Regions from separate parts of the Homo sapiens genome. Here all the other regions are linked to region 3. Evidence: fine-mapped expression QTL. A gene starts in region 3. Each other region holds a variant in brackets. All regions are shown on one strand. Distances are from middle to middle.

Region 1 (5,148 bases), 26 kb before region 3:
ATGAGGGCTGAGTCCCAGATACAAGGAGGAAATGGGGGAGGGGCAGAAGCGCTTCTCTGTGCCCCTGTCATGGTTCACCAGAGCTGGTTGCCAGGCATGATTTCTTTTTCTCTCTGATTTGTTTTCGGAATGCCTGTGCTCTTCCTAATGAGCATGAATCACTGATGCCACGGAAGGCAAATGAACTCCCGCAGTCTGGAGTGTGTCCTGCAGTCAGGCTCACCAGCAGGGGGATCCTCCTAAGCCTTGGCTTCCTCATCCGACAAATGAGATGTGGAAGTGGACCCCCGACCCGAGACCAGCCATGAGGATAAAAAAATTAACACCCAGCAGATCTAAGCTACCATCATTTGCTATAGTCTCGCTCTGTTGCCCAGGCTGGAGTACAGTGGCACGATCTCTGCTCATTACAACTTCTGCCTCCTGGGTTCAAGCGATTGTCCTACCTCACCCTCCCGAGTAGCTGGGATTACAGGCAGACACCATCACGCCCGGCTAATTTTTGTATTTTTAGTAGAGACGGGGTTTTGCCATATTGGCCAGGCTGGTCTCGAACTCCTGACCTCAGGTGATCCGTCCGCCTTGGCCTCCTACTACTGTTATTATAATGACCACTCTAACTCTAGGTCAGGCTTTTTTTCCTAAGTTCTTGCCCATATCTGTGGCCTATTTAATTCAGGTAACAGCTCTGGGGGATAATTGCTACCAAGTATAAGGTAGTTGTCTTATATCTGAAGAAAGCGAAGCCTAGAATGCAGATTTATTTATTATGTGCTTGTTTATGGCCCAGTTCCTTCAGGAGAAAGGACTAAAGGATGTTTATGGGTGCTGGGCCTTTGGCTGACGGGGCCTGGGCCGTCACACTAGCTGCCTGAGAACATTTCACACGGTGGCAAATCCAGGAGCTGTTGGAGCAGAGGGGACTCAGAGCTGGCAACAAGGTCTTTCCTGGGTGAGCACACTCTGGAAATTCCCCCCAACCCTTCACGCCCGTCAAACTACACAGTAATTTGTTCTTAGGCTGACTCATGTGGCCAGAATAGATCCCTTCCAGAACAAACAAAAGTGATTCAGCTATAACTAAAGCACCCTCGTGCCAGCTGGCTCTATCAGGGACAAACACAGCTTTCCGCGCCCTCTCTTTTCCTTTCCCTCCTAATCCCTGGGTTTGGCCCTCCAGGCCATACACAGTCACACACAACACACAACACACACACACACACACACACACACACACACACACACTCCCAACTCAAGCTAGACCTGAAATGAGGCAAACCTGAGAGCACAGCCTGCCTTCCTAATTGTGCGATCCCTGGTTCTCCACTGAACTTGTACTCCACCTGCTGCTGAAATGACTCATTCTTTCTCATTCATTCATTCATTCATTTTGTGTTAGGGAATGGGGAATCCTTTATCAAAACTGCCGTAATACTGACATTAAGCTAGTTAAATAAAAGACATCTAATTATAAACTGGGAGGTGCTCTATGCTGAAAACAAACTCGAGGGAGGGGTGCCTGATGGACCTACTTCCATAGGCTGGCCAGGAAAAGCTGCCATGAGAAGGGGCCACATATGCAGACACCCAGAGGATGAAAAGGACTAGCATGGAAGAATGTAGGGAAGCTGGGGAGAGACAGCATTCCAAGGAGAGGGAACACGTGTGCAAAGGTCCTTAGGCAGCAAACACTTGGCATATCCCCGCAAGTGAAGGATGACCGTAGTGGCTGAGGGGAATGACTGAGGGGGAAAGTGGTAGAGGTGAGGTTGAAGAGCCGGGCAAAGGTAGACCATGCAGGGCCTTGTAGGCCACAGTTAGGCAGAACCTTACTGTAAGCGCCCTGGAACTGAGGTAACCTGTAGCTGAGAGAGTACTTACCAAATAACCATCTGCTCTGTCTCATACTCCTGCCTCCTTAGCAATTAGGCTGGGCGTCACGACTGGTTCTAGCCAGTGGATTTTTTTTTTTTT[G/TG]AGACAGATTCTCGCTCTGTTGCCCAGGCTGGAGTGCAGTGGCGCGATCTCGGCTCACTGCAAGCTCCGCCTCCCGGGTTCAAGCAATTCTCCTGCCTCAGCCTCTTGAGTAGCTGGGACTACAGGCACCCGCCACCACGCCCAGCTAATTTTTTTTTATTTTTAGTAGAGACGGGGTATCACCATGTTAGCCAGGATGGTCTCGATCTCCTGACCTTGTGATCCGCCGGCCTCGGCCTCCCAAAGTGCTGGGATTACAGGCTTGAGCCACCGCGCCCGGCCTAGCCAGTGGATTTTAAGTGAAGATGCTATCTATCACTTCCTGGACGAAGCACTTAACAGCTAGTGAGCCTCTTCCAACCCTCTCTTCCCCAGCCACAGTGACTTTGGAAGCCACATGTTCTAGATGACTTAGCTGGCTACAAGAATGCAGGAGGCTGCATGACCCTTACTGGACTTCAGGTGAGTGGGAAATCAATATTTGTTGCGTTGAGGAACTAGATTTCAAGGTTTATCTGATACCGCAGCATAACCAAGCCTATCCTGGCTAATGCATCATCTGAGTATGTGTCCAAAACTTGCAACTGGAGGAGACTAGTTGTAAGAGCTAAGCATCTAGCAGGAGTTCAATAAAGGATGGTTCACTTCACCCTAGCTCTTACCCTTCCTCTCTGAAACACTGGGGACTGGCTTAGAGGCATTCCACACTCTGTTCATTCTAACACCACTCTCAAGAGACCAACAGTGATTAAAGCCTTGCTTTTTTCCAATGGAATAATGAATGCATGGAAGGAAAAGGTCAAGTGACCTGTCCTTAGCCACTCAGCAATTAACTTTAAGAAAACCTCTAGCTGGGCGTGGTGGTGGGCGCCAGTAGTCCCAGCTACTCGGGAGGCTGAGGCAGGATAATTGCTTGAGTCCACGAGGCAGAGGTTGCAGTGAGCCAAGCTCATGCCACTGCACTTCAGCCTGGACAACAGAGTGAGACTCTGTCTCACAAAAAAAAAAAAAAAAAGAAACAAAGAAAACCTCACCATCTCGTATGCTTTGAACCTTCCCAGTCTACAAGAAAAGTAGATAGGGCAATGTCTTTACCCATTTTCCAGATGGGGCAAGTGATGATGCAATCTAGTAACCTACCAAGAAGCGGGTAAGGTCAGGCAGACCTGAATTCCCATGTTGGCCTCATCACTATGGGCTATGTGGCCTTGGGAAATTACTTAATCTCTGAGCCTCAGTTTCCTCTTCTATAAAATAGGGATAATAAGAGTTGTGAGAAAAGATGCTTACCTGGCACATATCAGGTGCTAAACACAAGCTATTACTAGAACCCAGGTGCTCTGACCCCTGGCCTGTGGTTTTGGCCCAAAACAGTGTCGCCTCCAGTGGCAAGTCTGCAGTGGGCAGGGTCTGGATGTAGGCATGTTCTGTTGTGCCCTAGCAGCTGGAAAGGGGCGGAGGCAGGGCAGCCTTCCAAGAGAGCAGACACACAAGCCCTGTCTGGACCTGGCACAGCCCGGCCCCTTCCGGAGAGGAAGGGTTCATTCTCTTCTGTTTCATTTTACATAGCAGCCCCAAATTTTCCACTCAATGAGAGCCCAGCTCCAGGAAGGAAATGACTCTGGCCGAGATGCCAAACCCAAAGTTAGAAACTGTCAAGAGTTGCACAACCAAGAAGAAACTGCATGAAAATTGTGAAACTCAAGACTTCAGGTAGATAGTAGCAACAGATGGGAAGAGAAAACCTTGGTCACTTCCCAAATCCCTTCGGATTCCTGAAGTGTCTTCCTGTCCTACTCAGTTGACATCTGGAACCTCACAGGCCCAGCCCCCCAGTCCATATAGTGGCCAAAACAGGGGATACTCCCAGGTGGAAGCCCTCCAACGTCTTCCCTTCACTCTCCGGTGAAAGCAAACTCTTGGCGGTAGCCTGCATGGCACTGGGTGGCCTGACCCTGCCCTGTCCCCAGCCTCAGCCCACCCCCAGGCCTTTGTACATGCTGCTCCCCCCGGCTAGATATGTGTGTGTCGTCCTTCACTTCTTGGTCCACTATTCCTTACGGAGGAGGCTCAAGTTTCACTGCCTCAGAGAAACTTCCCCTGATGAGATCAAATCCTCTCATCTTGCACTCTCCTACCTGCCCTCCCCACCTGACCTACATTTATCCTTTGAGCACTCATACTGCAGTGGGTGACATGCATCTGTGTGTTAGCTTCTTATAATTCATCTCCCACTGGACTGTAAGCTCCATGAGGCCTGAGACCTTGGCTGTGTTTTCATGGTTGCATCCCCAGCATCTAGCGCACAGTAGGCACTCAGCAAATGTATTTTTAGGCCAGGCGCAGTGGCTCATGCCTATAATCCCAATATTTTGGGAGGCCAAGGCGGGTGGATCACTGAGGTCAGGGATTCAAGACCAGCCTGGCCAACACGGCAAAACCCTGTCTCTACTAAAAATACAAAAATTAGGCCAGGCACAGTGGTTCACACCCGTAATCCCAGCACTTTGGGAGGCCAAGGCAGGGGGATCACCTGAGGTCGGGAGTTTGAGACCAGCCTGACCAACATGGAGAAACCCTGTCTCTACTAAAAATACAAAATAAGCCGGGCGTGGTGGCGCATGCCTGTAATCCCAGCTACTCGGGAGGCTCAGGCAGGAGAATCGCTTGAACCCGGGAGGCAGAGGTTGTGGTGAGCCGAGATTGCGCTATTGCACTCCAGCCTGGGCAACAAGAGCGAAACTCCATTTCAAAAATAAATAAATACATAAATAAATAAATAAAATTACAAAAATTAGCCAGGCGTGGTAGTGCATGCCTGTAATCCCAGCTACTCAGAGGTTGAGGCACAAGGATCGCTTGAACCCGGGAGGCGGAGGTTGCAGTGAGCCGAGATCGAGCCATGGCACTCCAGCCCAGGTGACAGCGTGAGACTCCATCTCAAAAAGACAAAAAATGTATTTTTAGTTCCTTATTAACTCTCTTGTCCAGCTCCTGCATATCTAAATCCCTGTGGCAGGGCAGAGGGAGAATTTCACCTCACAGGCCAGTGCACCCAGTTTCCAGACTCCACCCTCAGAGCCAGAGCCATCTGCTCCCCACCATCTACAGGCTCAGCACCTAACCCAGCCTTTGGTGGCACTTAATCAGCTCTAGAGCTCAGCATTGATTATA
Region 2 (5,148 bases), 61 kb before region 3:
CTGCACTCCAGCCTGGGCAACAGAGCGAGACTCTGTCTCGAAAAAAAAAAAAATGCCACTACAAATATCCTTGTTCATCTGCCTCTCCTCACATGTGTGCATGTTTCTCTAGGCACAAATGGAACTGCCGTGTCAGAGGGTACTCATATTTTCAATTTAGGTGGAAACCACCAAATGCCCTCAGGAAACACTGTGGCAACTAACACTTTCCCAAGCCTGGAGGAGGCCTGCTTCCTCCTACCCTGGGCCACAGGAAATCAGCAAGCTTTCCTCCCTGACTCAAATCTTGATTAACCATTGGATTGCACCTACCACAACAGAACATGATAAGAGACCATACAAGAGTCTAGAATAAGAGAAAGAAACTACATTTTAAAAAATTGTTATTTTCCACATTTTTAGAAATCATTAGCAAAAAAATAATTCTAGACAACTTCCTGTCAGTGCCTCAAAAGCCTCCTTCCACTGTGACACTTGTCCGGGGAGCCCCAGAGGACTGCTGGGAAATCCATCTCAAGAAAATAGTCAGGAGATGAGAAACTGCCCCCAAACAGCCCCAAACCACATCTGAGCTGCCCAGACAGACCTCTCTGCAGCATATGGGATTGACTGCCCAAAAGGGGTGGAACTCACAGAGTTCATCAAAGGAACATGTCGTGACTTTCTGCATGGAGTAGCGAGGCCTTCAGCCTCCCTACCCCAGAGCCCAGGGGATGCTTCTGGGGCCCAGTCACCAGAAATAAATAAATAAATAAAATAATAATCTGTCTGTTCCAATGGCCTCAATACCCAGTAGGAAAAGGTGCCCCCTCTCAAACTGATGAGGAAGACTAGAGTTTGGATGAGATTTGAAACTCTGCAAAAGCCTTGGGTTCAATTTAAACCCCACTTCCACCACTGGTCTCACTGAGGGGCGTGAGACAAGTCACTTCAGCTTGCCCTCAGTTTTCTCAGCTGTAAATGGGAATGATAATACTGAATTCGTATGGTTGGACTGTCACAAGAAACAAGCAGGAGACTGCTGTGGTTAAGAACTCAAGATCCTGTAATCCCAGCACTTTGGGAGGCCGAGGCGGGCGGATCACGAGGTCAGGAGATTGAGACCATCCTGGCTAACACAGTGAAACCCCATCTCTACTAAAAATACAAAAAAATTAGCCAGGTGTGGTGGTGGGCGCCTGTAGTCCCAGCTGCTCGGGAGGCTGAGGCAGAAGAATGGCATGAACCCGGGAGGTGGAGCTTGTAGTGAGCCGAGATTGCACCACTGCACTGCAGCCTGGGCGACAGAGCAAGACTCCGTCTCAAAAACAAAAACAAAAAAAAAACTCATGATGTCGGCTCAGGGAGATCTGACTCAGAATTCCAGCTCTGACACTTGGTAATTCCAACTGAGATCCTAGGCCAAACTCAGAGCCAGCTTTCCTCATCTGCAGATGAATATAATGACTCTATCATGGAAAAATTGAGATGATTTAGGTAGATAATGTATGGAAAGTATTTAACACAAAGTCAGGCTAGGTTGTTATATTTTTATTCTTTTTTGAGAGAGGGTCTCACTCTGTCACCCAGGCTGGAGTGCAGTGGTGCAATCTTGGCTCACCGCAACCTCTGTCTCCTGGGTTCAAGCGATTCTCCTGCCTCAGCCTCCCAAGTAGCTGGGATTACAGGTGTGTGCCACTACGCTTGGCTAATTTTTGTATTTTTAGTAGAGACAGGGTTTCGCCATGTTGCCCAGGCTGGTCTCGAACTCCCAGCCTCAAGTGATCCGCCCGCCTTGGCCTCCTCCAAAGTGCTGGGATTAGAGGTGTGAGCCACCACACCCAGCCAGGTTGTTATATTTTTTAAATGACTGTGTATATCAGATCTTTGGCCTACAAAATGGAAATTGTTTTTATTATAGAAACTTGTTTAAAAGGGCTGAAATTAACTTTTATCAATTTGAGGAAAATCCCTAATGAATTGCCTGATATATAGAGAAGTGCTTTCTCTTTTATACAAGTGCTTTCTATAAACATTCCAAAATCTTTTTTTTTTTTTTTTTTTTGAGATGGAGTCTCGCTCTGTCACCCAGGCTGGAGTGCAGTGGCATAATCTTGGTTCACTGCAACCTCTGCCTCCCAGGTTCAAGTGATTCTCCTGCCTCAGCCTCCCGAGTAGCTGGGATTACAGGCACATGCGACCACACCTGGATAATGTTGGGGGTTTTTTGTAAGTTTTTTCTTTTCTTTTTTTTTAATAGAGACAGGGTTTCACCATGTTGGCCAGGCTGGTCTTGAACTCCTGGTCTCAAATGATCCACCCACATCAGTCTCCCAAAGGCTGTGATCACAGGCATGAGCCACCGCACCAAGCCCCAGATGCTATTATCATGAAAAAGCAATGGTTGGCTGGCAGGTGGGGATGGGAGGTTAAAGCTGCTTTGTGGGGATGCAAATGCAACCTTGTACCGGGCCTCATTTGCATGTGTAAAACTAGCTAGAATTGAGGTCGTTGCCCTCTCTACAGAGCTGTGAGGCCCAAATATACCTCCCAGCCAGATGTGACAAGTTCCCTTACCAGGTAAACCGGGCTTCGGTTGTTATCCATTGCAGGGATGCCCGTGAGGACCTCGGCCAACACCTGGAGAGAACAGAACGTGAGTTAGCATGGTTCAGACGCTCGTGCACACAGCCAGGCAGCAGATTCTGTCTTCTCTTCTCAGTTCTGAGCTCCAGGTGCAGCTCTGCCATTGCCAGCAGACACACCTGCCCAAAATCTGGAACATGGGAATATCACTAAACACCTCCTCCAATTAAAGATGCCACCAAGCTGCCAGTGGAAGGTTGTAATTAATTGATAGCCAGGCAGAGAAGATGGTTTTCAAAAATTCATGTGTGTGTGTGTTTATATGTATTACCATAAGATATATATAGGTATAGATAAATATAGATACACACACACGTATATATACACTATTTTTTAAAGATTGTTTCATTTAAAAATCCTTCAGCTGGCTGGGC[A/G]CGGTGGATCATGCCTGTAATCCCAGCACTTTGGGAGGCTGAGGTGGGCGGATCACGTGGTCAGGAGATCGAGACCATCCTGGCTAACACAGCGAAACCCCGTCTCTACTAAAGATACAAAAAAATGAGCCAGGCGCGGTGGCGGGTGCCTGTAGTCCCAGGTGCTTGGGAGGCTGAGGCAGGAGAATGGCGTGAACCTGGGAGGTGGATCTTGCAGTGAACTGAGATCGCACCACTGCACTCCAGCCTGGGCGACAGAGCAAGACTCCGTCTCAAAAAAAAAAAAAAACACCAAAAAACCTTCAGCTATGGCAAGCAGGCATTGCTCTGTGAATCTCAGGGAAGGAAAGACTCTGCATGCAGGCAGGTATCTATTCTAGACAAATCTTGCAGCATCCATAGCATGTTTCACTCACAGGCCTTTACTAACATTATTTATTCATTAGCGCATCCACTCGCAGAAGGAGCACAACCCTGTATACGTGTAAGTCACCACAAAATTGGCAAACCATGATATATGTCTTCATAAACAGGAAACTGCTTTGAACAGGGTTTCTCAGTAGAGACAATGCTATGATGGCTAAGGGCTCTACAGTCAGGCCTGAGTTCAAATTCTGACTCTGTTCCTTATATGCTCAGGTGATCTTTAGGCAAGTAACTAAAACCTGAGCCTCAGTGTCCTCATCTGTTAAATGGGGACTAGCAGTTGTGAATATTAAAGGTGTGAAGACCCCACACTTAGTGTGGAACCTCTCTCCCACAGCATCTCTCAAAGCAAGTCAGAATAGGGTCACATTTATAGCCAAGAATCCCTCCAAGCCTGGAGGAAGGAAAGGATAAAGGTTTTAAACCACCCAGGATTAATAACAGACTGGCAGTGACCAGAAAAGGGCAGCAGAGGGCATCACTGCTGCAAGTGGGACAGGAGCCAATTGAAAAGGGACTCCTGACAGGTCCCTGCCAGGAAGGGACAGAACAAGGGGAAATGAATAAACAAAGACTTCCTGTGCCCCTTTCACAGAGCAGGCTCTGAGCCAAGTCCTTTATAGAGGTCACTGAGCACTCACCAAAAAACACTGAGCAATGCACTGTGATCCCCACAGGAGGAATCAAAGTTCAAAAGCGTTATCAGTCAACCAGAGGCAGGGCTGAGCAAAAGGGTGGCAGGAGCCAGGAGGCATTCAATGAATGAATGGATGGATGGGTGGTAGATGGATGGATGGATGGATGGATGGATGGATGGATGGATGGATGGATGGATGGGTATGTGGGTGGGAGGGTGGGTGCATGGGTGGATGAATAGATGGATAGGTGGGAGGGTGAATGGATGGATGAGGAAGTCATCTGTGACGCTAACACACCAGTTAGAAGGTCAAGAGTAAACAGATATCAGAAGGAGGGTGTAAAGGTGGGAATAACAATAACCACAGTCATCATAATATTCTTGGTAGGTGCAGGGTGCAGGGTGCCATGCTCACCTGCTTATATACATTATCCCATTCATCTCCATGTGTATCGTTAGCCCCATCTTACAGAAGGCTTAACTGAGGCCCAGAGACAGAAGTGCTAGGTGTAAGTCACACAGCTGAAAGTAACTGAGCCGGGCCTAGGGGTTCTATCCCCCTGGTTCTTTTTTTTCTTTTTTTTTTTTTTTGAGACAGAATCTTGCTCTGTTGCCCAGGCTGGAGTGCAATGGCGCGATCTCGGCTTACTGCAACCTCTGCCTCCCAGGTTCAAGTGATTCTCCTGACTCAGCCTCCCAGGTAGCTGCGATTACAGGCACATGCCACCACACTCAGCTAATTTTTGTATTTTTAGTAGAGCCGGGGTTTCACCATGTTGGCCAGGTTGGTCTTGAACTCCTGACCTCAGGTGATCTGCCCACATCGGCCTCCCAAAGTACTGAGATTTTAGGCATGTGCCACCACTCCCTGCCCATCCCCCTGGTTCTTAAAGGAGAAGGAGCCTGGACTAGCCCTGCTGAGCTTCACTGAACAACTTGCAGTGGGGCTGAGGGAGGCAGAGGAACCAGCTGGGAGACACGGAGGTGCAGAATCTGGGGTTCTGGCTGAGGGCAGAGGTGACTCAGGGCCACGGTTCTGGTAGCAGAGGTAGACAGACAGGAGACTGTGGTCAGAGAGAGGAAGTA
Region 3 (5,148 bases):
GGGCATGGTGGCAGGCACCTGTAGTCCAAGCTGCTAGGGAGGCTGAAGCAGGAGAATGGCATGAACCCAGGAGGTGGAGCTTGCAGTGAGCCGAGATTGCGCCACTGCACTCCAGCCTGGGTGACAAAGCGAGACTCCGTCTCAAAAAAAAAAAAAAGAAACTAAGTATTGACGCATGCTACAACATGGATGAACCTCATGTTAGTTGAAACAAGTCAGTCACAGAGCACTATATATTATATGATTCCATTTATATGAAATGTCCAAAATAGGCAATGTCTAAAACTCAGGAAAATGGAAGGAGGGGATTGGAAGTTAACGGGTACAGAGTTTCTTCTTCGGGTGATTAAAATGTTCTAAGATTGATTGTGAAGATGGATACACAGCCCTGTGAATATACTAAATACCACTAAATTGTACTCCTGAAACAGGTGGATTGTATGGTATGTGAATATCTCAGTAAAGCTTTATTTTTTTTTTAAGTCATAGGTATGCCTTCTAATTGAATTTCCTAGAAACAGAAGTTGTTCTGGCATTTGTAACTGAGGGCTGGGCCAATGTGGAAAAAATGAGAGGGAGTCTCACACAAAGTTTGTTCACTGCCCAGGAAACATTCAAAGTAGTGAAGCCAGGTCCAGGAGCAGTGGCTCACGCCTGTAATCCCAGCACTTTGGGAGGCCAAAGCGGCCAAATCACATGAGGTCAGGAGTTCGAGACCAGCCTGGCCAACATGGCGAAACCCCATCTCTACTAAAAACATAAAAATTAGTGGGCGTGGTGGCACATGCCTGTAATCCCAGCTACTCGGGAGGCTGAGGCAAGAGAATCACTTGAATCCAAGAGGCGGAAGCTGCAGTGAGCCGAGATCTCGCCACTGCATTCCAGCCTGGGCCACAGAATGAGACTGTCTCAAAAAAATAAAAATGAAAAGAGAATATTACAACTTATGACTTATAAGAATATTTAACACTTAGGTGTCAGTGCTTTTATACAGTATTTTCATTCCTCACAACTTTATGAAGAAGCTATAATTATCATCTCCAGTTTACATACAGATTCAGAAGCTGAGGCTCAGAGAGGTTAACAAACTGGCCCAAAGTCATACAGCAAGAGCCTGGAATGCAGATCTCCACCTGGAAAGCAGAGACAACAGGCAAGCGGCCTCCCCGCAGAGTCCATGGCCCTCTCCGCCAGTCATCCGTCAGGCACCAACAAACAAAACATATGGAGGCTGTCTGAGTGCCTTCCCACGGAATTATCTAGAACTGTGCACCTTGCAATAGAGTGAAAGTAAGTGCTTGTGCTTAGGCCCCATTATACACACTGAATCTATTAGGACACATCTGATCTCAAAACAGGTTGATAGTCATAAATACTGTGATCAAAACAATGTACACTAAAAGTAAATATCTGATTTTAAAACTATAATGGTAAAGTACATTTAATCACAAATATGATAAATAGGCTGGGCACAGTGGCTCACGCCTGTAATCCCAGCACTTTGGGAGGCCGAAGCAGGTGGATCGCCTGAGATCAAGAGTTCCGGAGGCCGGGCGCGGTGGCTCATGCCTGTAATCCCAGCACTTTGGGAGGCCCAGGGTGGGCGGATCACAAGGTCAGGAGATCCAGACCATCCTGGCTAACACGGTGAAACCCCGTCTCTACTAAGAATACAAAGTTAGCCGGGCGTGGTGGCGGGCGCCTGTAGTCCCAGCTACTCAGAAGGCTGAGGCAGGAGAATGGCGTGAACCCGGGAGGCGGAGCTTGCAACGAGCCTAGATCGCGCCACTGCACTCCAGCCTGGGCGACAGAGTGAGACTCCGTCTTAAAAAAAAAAAAAAAAAAAAAAAAAAATAGTTCAAGACCAGTCTGGCCAACATGGTGAAACCCGGTCTCTACTGAAAATACAAAAAATTAGCCAGGGTGGTAGCGGGCGCCTGTAATCCCAGCTACTCGGGAGGCCGAGGCAGGAAAATCGCTTGAATCCCAGAGGTGGAGGTTGCAGTGAGCCGAGACCGTGCCATTGCACTCCAGCCTGGGCAACAACAGCGAAACTCCGTTTCAATATATATATATATGTTAAATCATAGATCCTTCTAATATACACTAAAACTAAACACACCACACACACACACACACACACCCCCCCAAGAAGTGACAGCACCGTGGGTCCCTACAGGGTCGAGGCTCGCACTTTGCAGGCTGTTGTGGGCTGGATGAGAGGCCACCTGGGGACGTCACCGAGCCAGCAGCGCTGACAGGAGGGCCCCCGTACCCACCGTTCTCTGGACTCAGAGCGCAGTGGCGGCGGCCCCTGCTCGTCGACAGACGTCCTCAGAGACCACGCGGCACCTTCAGGTGACAGGCCGAGGTCCGCGGCGGACCCGGTCCAGGAGGCTCAGCTCGCACGCCCTCGGATCGGGACCCGCTGAACCCGGGTGCCCGAGGGAGCTTGGCGGCCGCTCCAGGCGGGATCGCTGGGGGCTCCGGTCGCCCTGGTCCCCTCCCCTCCCCGGGCCGCACTCACCGAACTCCATCCAGTCCCACTCGCTGAGCGCGTCCATGTTGCGGCACAGGTCGTCCAGCACCCAGGAGGGCAGCTGGTAGATGTAGCAGGCCATGGCACGCTACGGGGCCGGCTCCGGCGCGGGACGACTGGGTCGGACACTGCGGGCTGCGGCTTCTCTAGCCAGGGGCGGACCGGCGGGGAAGTGGGCGGGGCGGGAGGGCACCAGCGTCCCCAGCGGCCACGGGCGGCACGACGGCCCCGCCGGCTCCACCCCAGCGCCGGCCAGAGAATCGGAACTGCGAGGGGAAACTGAGGCCCTGGTGGGAGAAGGCCACACGGGAATTCTGCCGCAGCGGCAGGAGGCCTTCTGACCCCACTTCCATCGGCACTACACCATGCATCATGCGCTCATCAAATACTCCATTAATTACCTACTGTATGCCAGGCAACTCCCTAGGTGTTGGTAATACCTGAATAAGAAACCCTACAGCCGGGCGCGGTGGATCACTCCTGTAATCCCAGTACTTTGGGAGGCCGAGGCGGACGGATCACGAGGTCAGGAGTTCGAGACTAGCCTGGCCAATATGGTGAAACCCCGTCACTACTAAAAATACAAAAATTAGCCGGGCACGGTGGCGCACGCCTGTAGTCCCAGCTACCTGGGAGGCTGAGGCAGAAGAATCGCTTGAACCCTGGAGGCGGAGGTTGCAGTAAGCCCAGATTGTGCCCTTGTACTCCAGCCTGGGTGAAGAGTGAGGCTCTGTCTCAAAAAAAAAAAAAAAAAAAAAAAAAAGCCTACAAAAGCCCTTGCTTTCATAAGACTTACAATCTAGGTGTGGAGAGAAAGACTAACAATAAATAATAAATATAGTATGTTACAGAGTGTCTTAAAGGTAATAAGCACTATTGCAAAAAAAAAAAAAAAGGAAAAAAAGTTGGTTAAAGGGAATCAGGAATTCAGATTGAGCATGGGGAATATTCTATTAAATAGGGTAGTCAGGTAGACTTTACTATAGTAGCTAATATGTATCGTGCAGCTACTATGTGCCAGGCACTGTTGTAGGTGCTGGGAATACCTCTGAAGAGAAGGACAAAATCCTTGTCCTGGAGGGAGACAGACAACAAGCAATAAAAATAGGCAGATAAGCTATGTTGGAGAATGAAAGTAGAAGCCTGGGCAACATAGGAAGATCTTATCTCTACAAAAAACTTTTTTTTTTTGAGACGGAGTCTTGCTCTGTAGCCCAGGCTGGAGTGCAGTGGCGCAATCTTGGCTCACTGCAGCCTCTGCCTCCCAGGTCCCGGTTCAAGCAATTCTCCTGCCTCAGTCTCCCGAGTAGCTGGGATTACAGGCACGCGCCACCACGCCCAGCTAATTTTTGTATTTTTAGTAGAGACAGGGTTTCACTGTGTTGGCCAGGATGGTCTTGAACTCCTGACCTCGTGATCCGCCTGCCTCGGCCTCCCAAAGTGCTAGGATTACAGGCATGAGCCACCACGCCTGGCCTCTACAAAAAATTTTAAAATGAGCCAAGCATGGTAGTGTACACCTATAGTCCCAGCTACTCAGGAGGCTAAGGTGGTAGGATCTCTTGAACCCAGGAGTTTGAGGCTGCAGTGAGCTATGACTGCACTGCAGCCTGAGTGACAGAATGAGACCCTGTCTCTGAAAAAAAAAAAAAAAAAAAGAAAGAAAAGAAAGAATAAAAGTAGAGGGTGGTAAAAGGGAGTGCAAGTGGCCAATTGCATTATCTTAGATGATACTATTACTGGGAAAAAAGCAGAGTATGGTGCAGGGGACTGCAGGACAAACTGGATTATTAAATAGGGTATAAGGGGCTGGGTGCGGCGGCTCCCACCTATAACCCCAGCACTTTGGGAGGCAGAGGCAGGCAGATCGCTTGAGCCCAGGAATTCGAGACCAGCCTGGGAAACAGAGCAAGACCCTGTCTCTACAAAAATTAGCCAGGCATGGTGGCATGTGCCTGTAGTCCCAGGTACTTGGGAGGCTAAGGTAGGGGGATCACTTGAGCCCAGGAGGTGGAGATTGCAGTGAGCCAAGATTGCACCACTGCACTCCAGCCTGGGTGAGAGTGAGACCCTGTCTCTAAATAAACAAAGAGGGTACAAGGAACAGAATTTATAGTGTGTGTATACATATATATATATATATATATATATATATATATATATAAAATACACACACACATATATAAAATAGCTAGTATTTATTGAGCACTTACTATGTGTAGCCTTCACCTGGGTTACTTTACTTACTCCTTACAATGACCCTCTGAGGTAGGTATGGTTATAGCCCCATTCTACAAATAAGGAAACTAAGGCACAGAGAGGTTAAATAATATGGCTAAAATCATTTGAACCTAAGTATTCTGACCCCAGGCTCTCCATCACCACTGGCTAAAGTATATTGTAGATACAGATACATTTATCTGTATCTACAATGTACTTTGCAAAAATGATCTTATGTCATTCTTACAAGCCTATACTATAGATATTATTATCCCCATTTTACACAGAAGTAAATAGATTCCAAGAGGTTAGGCGAGGTCACGAAGGGCAGATAAGTAACTAGAGTAGGTACCACTGTATAGCTGTGGCCGTCAGCTATGGAGTAGCGC
Region 4 (5,148 bases), 48 kb before region 3:
CTCCCCAAGGCAGGGGCTCTGTATGCTTCTGGCGTACACTCCCTAGAGCCTAGAAAAGGGCTTAACTACCCACATTTTCTGAATCAATGAATGAAGGAGTGACTGCCGACTCCATGAAAGCACTAAGCCAAAGTGGAAAGGGAATCATACTTCCAGTTTTTATTAGATGTATGTGTGTGTGTGTATCTGTGTGTGTGTGTGTGTGTGTGTACACATGTGAGTATTCATATACATGTATGAATAGAGAAAGCATTAAAGAAAACATATCAAAATATGGGCCCAGCACAGTGGCTCACATCTAAAATCCCAACACTTTTGGAGGCCAAAGCAGGAGGATCACTTGAGCCAGGGAGTTCAAAACCAACCTGGGCAACATAGTGAGATCGTGTCTCTACAAAAAAAGTTTTAACAATTAAAAATGAAAATATATCAAAATATTAAAACAGTAGTGCTTATTTATAGGTGCTGTGAAAAAGTTTCTATTTTCTTATTTATAATTTTCTTTATTCCTTTTTAAATTTGTTTTACTTTTTAATTAATTAATTAATTTTTTTTTTTTTTTTTTTTTGAGACAGAGTCTCACTCTATTGCCCAGGCTGGAGTGCAGTGGTGCGATCTGGGCTCACTGCAACCTCCACTTTCTGGGCTCAAGTGATTCTCATGCCTCAGCCTCCTGAGTAGCTGGGACTACAGGTGCATGCCAACACACCAGGCTGATTTTTGTATGAATTTTTTTTAGTAGAGATGAGGTTTCGCCATGTTGGCCAGGCTGGTCTCAAACTCCTGACCTCAACTGATCTGCCCACCTCGGCCTCCCAAAGTGCTGGCATTACAGGTGTGAGCCACCATGCCTGGCCTTTATTTATTTTTGAGACAGAGACTCACTTTGTTGCCCCGGCTGGAGTGTAGTGTCATGATCTCGGCTCACTGCAACTTCTGCCTCCTGGGCTCAAGTGATCCTCCCATCAGCCTCCTGAGTAGCTGGGACTGCAGGCATACACCACCACACCCAGCTAATTTTTGTATTTTTTGTAGAGACGGGGTTTTGCCATGTTGCCCAGCTGATCTTGAACTCCTGGACTTAAGTGATCCACTCGCCTCAGCCTCCCAAAGTGCTGGGATTATAGGTGCGAGCCACCATGCCCAGCCAAAAAAAGTTTTTGTATATATATTTTTTTCAGTTGAGACAGGGTCTCGCTATGTTGCCCAAGCTGGTCTCAAACTCCTTGGCTCAAGGAATCCTCTTGCCTCAGCATCAAAGTTCTAGGATTACAGGCATAAACCACCATACCTGGTCAATTTTCTTTATTTTTTAACACTGGTTACAGAATGAACAGATACTCAATTTTCTTTATTTCTTAAAATACCCTACAATATAAGGCACAAGTGTTTCAGATGAAAAATAATTAAAAAAAAAAAAAGCACACACATGGCAGGGCACAGTGGCTCACACCTATAATCCCAACATCTTGGGAGGTCAAGGCAGGAGGATCACTTGAGCCCGGGAGCTCAACACCAGCCTGGTCAACATAGCAAGACCCTATCTCTACAAAAAAAAAAAAAAAAAAAAGCAAAAAATGAGCTGGGCGCACACCTGTAGTCCCAGCTTCTCAGAGGCTGAGGTGGGAGGATCACCAGCCCATGAGTTCAAAGCTGCAGTGATCTACAATCATTCCAAGGCCATTCCAGCCTGGGCAATAGAGCAAGACCCTAGCTCTTAAAAAAGAAAAAAAAGTCAGGCACGGTGGCTCACGCCTGTAATCCCAGCACTTTAGGAAGCCAAAGCAGAAAGATCACTTGAGGTCAGGAATTTGAGACCATCCTGGCCAACATGTCAAAACCCCGTCTCTACTAAAAATATGAAAATTAGCCGGGCCTGGTGGCGCACGCCTGTAATCCCAGCTACTCGGGAGGCTAAGGCACGAGAATCACCTGAACCTGGTAGGCAGAGATTGCAGTGAGCCGAGATCACGCCACTGCACTCCAGCCTGGGAGACAGAGCAAGACTCTGTCTCAAAAAACAAAAAAAGAAAAGAAAAGAAAAAAAAAAAGGAGAGAAGATTTATTCCCATGTGGAAGGAAGGAGTTGGAGTAAGCCAAGTTTCCTTTATAATTCTAATCTACACATAGAATTGCTACACAGGAGAAGAATGGACTCTGGAGCCAAACCAGGTAGATCCAAATCCTGGCTCTGCCACTCATTAGCTGTGTGACCTTGGATGAGACATTTAACCCCTCTGTGCCTCAATTTACCCATCTGTAAAATAATGTGATAATAGTAGCTACATTTATAGGGTTCTTGTAAGGACTAAATGAGTTTATATATAATAGAGTGCTTAAAACATGACTGGGCACACAGGAAGCACTATATAAAGGTTAGCTATCATTATTACTAAACAAAGGGGAGGCTTACCTAAGACAAATCTGCAACTCTGCCTGGAAGAATCTTTCGATTGATCCTGGACTTGAACAGGCTGTCTGTAGAGAAAGACATCAGAACATGAAGATCCCGCCCCACCCCTGCAGCCTCCACCCCCACTAGAAACCAAGAAGTGCTCACCTCTCTGAGCTTCTTGAAGACGAATGGCTTCCCGTGCCTGTGCCCTCTGTAGACGTCAGCAAAGGTCCCCTGGCTGATTTTGCGGTTTTGATTGAAGTCATCGGTTGCCTGGACCACGTCTGCCTCACTCCAGAAAAGGCTGTCTCCAGCCAAGCTCAAAAGTTTTTCCTGCTTAGGAATGGAGGTGCTGAAGTCCTGGAGACCCAGAGAGAAGAGATGGAGATTACTATGGAATCTCGTTTTCTCTGCTACCTCAAGGGACCTTGGAACACCAGAGATGGAGGGATGGAGGGGATCAACTTATCCAATGGAAACTGTAAAAAGGACATGGATAGGCCGGGCACGGTGGCTCACGCCTGTAATCCCAGCACTTTGGGAGGCCGAGGCGGGCGGATCACGAGGTCAGGAGATCAAGACCATCCTGGCTAACACAGTGAAACCCCGTCTCTACTAAAAAATACAAAAAAAAATTATCCAGGCGTGGTGGCGGGCGCCTGTAGTCCCAGCTACTC[G/A]GGAGGCTGAGGCAGGAGAATGGGGTGAACCCAGGAGGCGGAGCTTGCAGTGAGCCGAGATCGCGCCACTGCACTCCAGCCTGGGTGACAGAGCGAGACTCTGTCTCAAAAAAAAAAAAAAAAAAAGGACATGGATAGGCCCAAGCTCAAATCCCAGCTCCATCTGTATCTTGCTCTGTGACCTTGGGTGAGTTACTTAACCTCTCTGAGCCTCAATTTTTTCCATCAGCAAAAATGAAGGTAACAATAGTACCCCGAAGAGTAATTTTGAAGACTAAGATGTGAGTATTCCTGGCACATGGTTGATGTTTCCTTTATTTCAGTTTACAGAAGTAAGCACTGAGGAAATAAAACAGCTGAAGTGAGGTCCCACAGCTGGTCAGTGGCCGAGCTCAGCACTCTTGGTCTAATTCACAGCATAGATACTGGGGTTCCAGACTCCTGGGAAGTAGGATACAGGTTCATATAACCAAACCAGGGGTGTCCAATTTTTGACTTCCCTGGACCACACTGGAAGAAGAATTGTCTTGGGCCACACATAAAATACACTAATACTAATGATAGCTGATGAGCTTTAAAAAAAAAATTGCAAAAAAAACTCATAATGTTTTAAGAAACTTTACAAATTTGTGTTGGGCCACATTCAAAGCCATCCTGGGCTGCACACAACCATGGGCAAGTAAGACAAGCTTGCTTTAAACAGAATTCCAGAGACTGCATGTGTATATAAGCCTATAAAAAGAAGTTCTGTTTCCGTTTTTAATAACTTCTCTCTTTAAAACACATGTACGTAATTTTTTTTTTTTTTTTGAGACAGAGTCTCGTACTGTCACCCAGGCTGGAGTGCAGTGGTGTGATCTCGGCTCACTGCAAGCTCCGCCTCCCAGGTTCACGCCATTCTCCTTCCTCAGTCTCCCGAGCAGCTGGGACTACAGGCACCCACCACCCTGTCCGGCTAATTTTTTGTAATTTTTTTAGTAGAGATGAGGCCTCACCGTGTTAGCCAGGATGGTCTCCATCTCCTGACCTCGTGATCCGCCCGACTTGGCCTCCCAAAGTGCTGGGATTACAGGCACGAGCCACCGCGCCCGGCCTAAATTTCAATTTTTTTAAGTTACATATGCTCTTAACAGTTTTTGAAAATTAGTATCCATAACCCCATTATCCATTTAACTGCTATTAAAGTTAGTGTATTTCCGGCCAATTAGATATACTAGGATTTATTTAACAAAACTGGTATCATGCCACACACATAGTTTTGATTTCTTTTTGAGACAGGGTCTCACTTTGACACCAAGGCTGGAGTGCAATGGCATGATGTCAGCTCACCGCAGCCTCAACCTCCCAGGCTCAAGGGATCCTTTCATCTCAGCGCCCCCAAGTAGCTGGGACTACAGGTGTGTGCCACCACGCCTGGCTTATTTTTTAAACTTTTTTTTTTGGCGAGGCCAGGCACAGTGATTCACTGCTTGTAATCTCACCATATGTGGGAGGCCAAGGCAGGCGGATCCTCTGAGGCCAGGAGTTCAAGACCAGCCTGGGCAATATGGTGAAACCGTGTCTCTACTAAAAATACAAAAATTAGCCAGGCGTGGTGGCACACACCTATAATCCCGGATACTCAGGAGGCTGAGGCAGGAGAATCGCTTAAACTGGGGAACCAGAGGTTTCAGTGAGTCGAGACAGCCTGGGCAACAGAGGGAGACTTTGTCTCAAAAAAACTTTTTGGCCAGGCACGGTGGCTCATGCCTGTAATCCCAGCACTTTGGGATGCTGAGGTGGGCGGATCACATGAGGCCAGGAGTTCAAGACCAGCCTGGCCAACATGGCGAAACCCTGTCTCCACTAAAAATACAAAAAAAAATTAGCCAAACATGCTGGCATGTGCATGTAATCCCAGCTACTCAGGAGGCTGAGGCAGGAGAATAGCTTGAACCTGGGAGGCAGAGGTTACAGTGACCAAGATCGTGCCACTGCACTCCAGCCTGGGCAATGGAGCGAGACTCCTCAAAAAAAACACAAAAACAAAAAAAACTTTTTTGTAGACACAGGATCTCACACTGTTGCCCAGGTTGG

Direction of the effects. Alleles are on the strand shown, and positions count from the first base shown. SD is a standard deviation of normalised expression in the study named. Not every link is listed here.
For the expression in lymphoblastoid cells of the gene that starts at base 2,657 in region 3, G is the high allele of the variant in region 1 and TG is the other (small effect, 0.30 SD a copy in GEUVADIS).

The links.
Region 1: its variant is fine-mapped to the expression of IRAK2 in lymphoblastoid cells (GEUVADIS, PIP 0.95).
Region 2: its variant is fine-mapped to the expression of IRAK2 in whole blood (TOPMed, PIP above 0.99).
Region 4: its variant is fine-mapped to the expression of IRAK2 in fibroblasts (GTEx, PIP 0.95).

What each region holds. Positions count from the first base shown.
Region 1 is chr3:10,188,121-10,193,268 of GRCh38, reverse strand. All of the region lies in intron 2 of IRAK2 (interleukin 1 receptor associated kinase 2), which reads right to left. Among named protein-coding and RNA genes, the nearest start is that of IRAK2, 26 kb to the right of the region's middle. RefSeq lists enhancers at 778-1,087, 3,587-3,666. The variant G/TG (reference allele first, on the strand shown) is at 1,975.
Region 2 is chr3:10,223,842-10,228,989 of GRCh38, reverse strand. It overlaps IRAK2 (interleukin 1 receptor associated kinase 2), which reads right to left. Exons shown (of 13, transcript NM_001570.4): 10 at 2,557-2,619. Among named protein-coding and RNA genes, the nearest start is that of TATDN2, 22 kb to the left of the region's middle. RefSeq lists a silencer at 2,271-2,565 and enhancers at 2,679-2,728, 2,904-3,686. The variant A/G (reference allele first, on the strand shown) is at 3,000.
Region 3 is chr3:10,162,428-10,167,575 of GRCh38, reverse strand. It overlaps IRAK2 (interleukin 1 receptor associated kinase 2), which reads right to left and starts at 2,657. Exons shown (of 13, transcript NM_001570.4): 1 at 2,528-2,657. The coding sequence starts at 2,621. RefSeq lists silencers at 2,343-2,492, 2,693-2,822.
Region 4 is chr3:10,210,814-10,215,961 of GRCh38, reverse strand. IRAK2 (interleukin 1 receptor associated kinase 2) reads right to left here. Exons shown (of 13, transcript NM_001570.4): 5 at 2,561-2,755; 6 at 2,414-2,478. Among named protein-coding and RNA genes, the nearest start is that of TATDN2, 35 kb to the left of the region's middle. The variant G/A (reference allele first, on the strand shown) is at 3,073.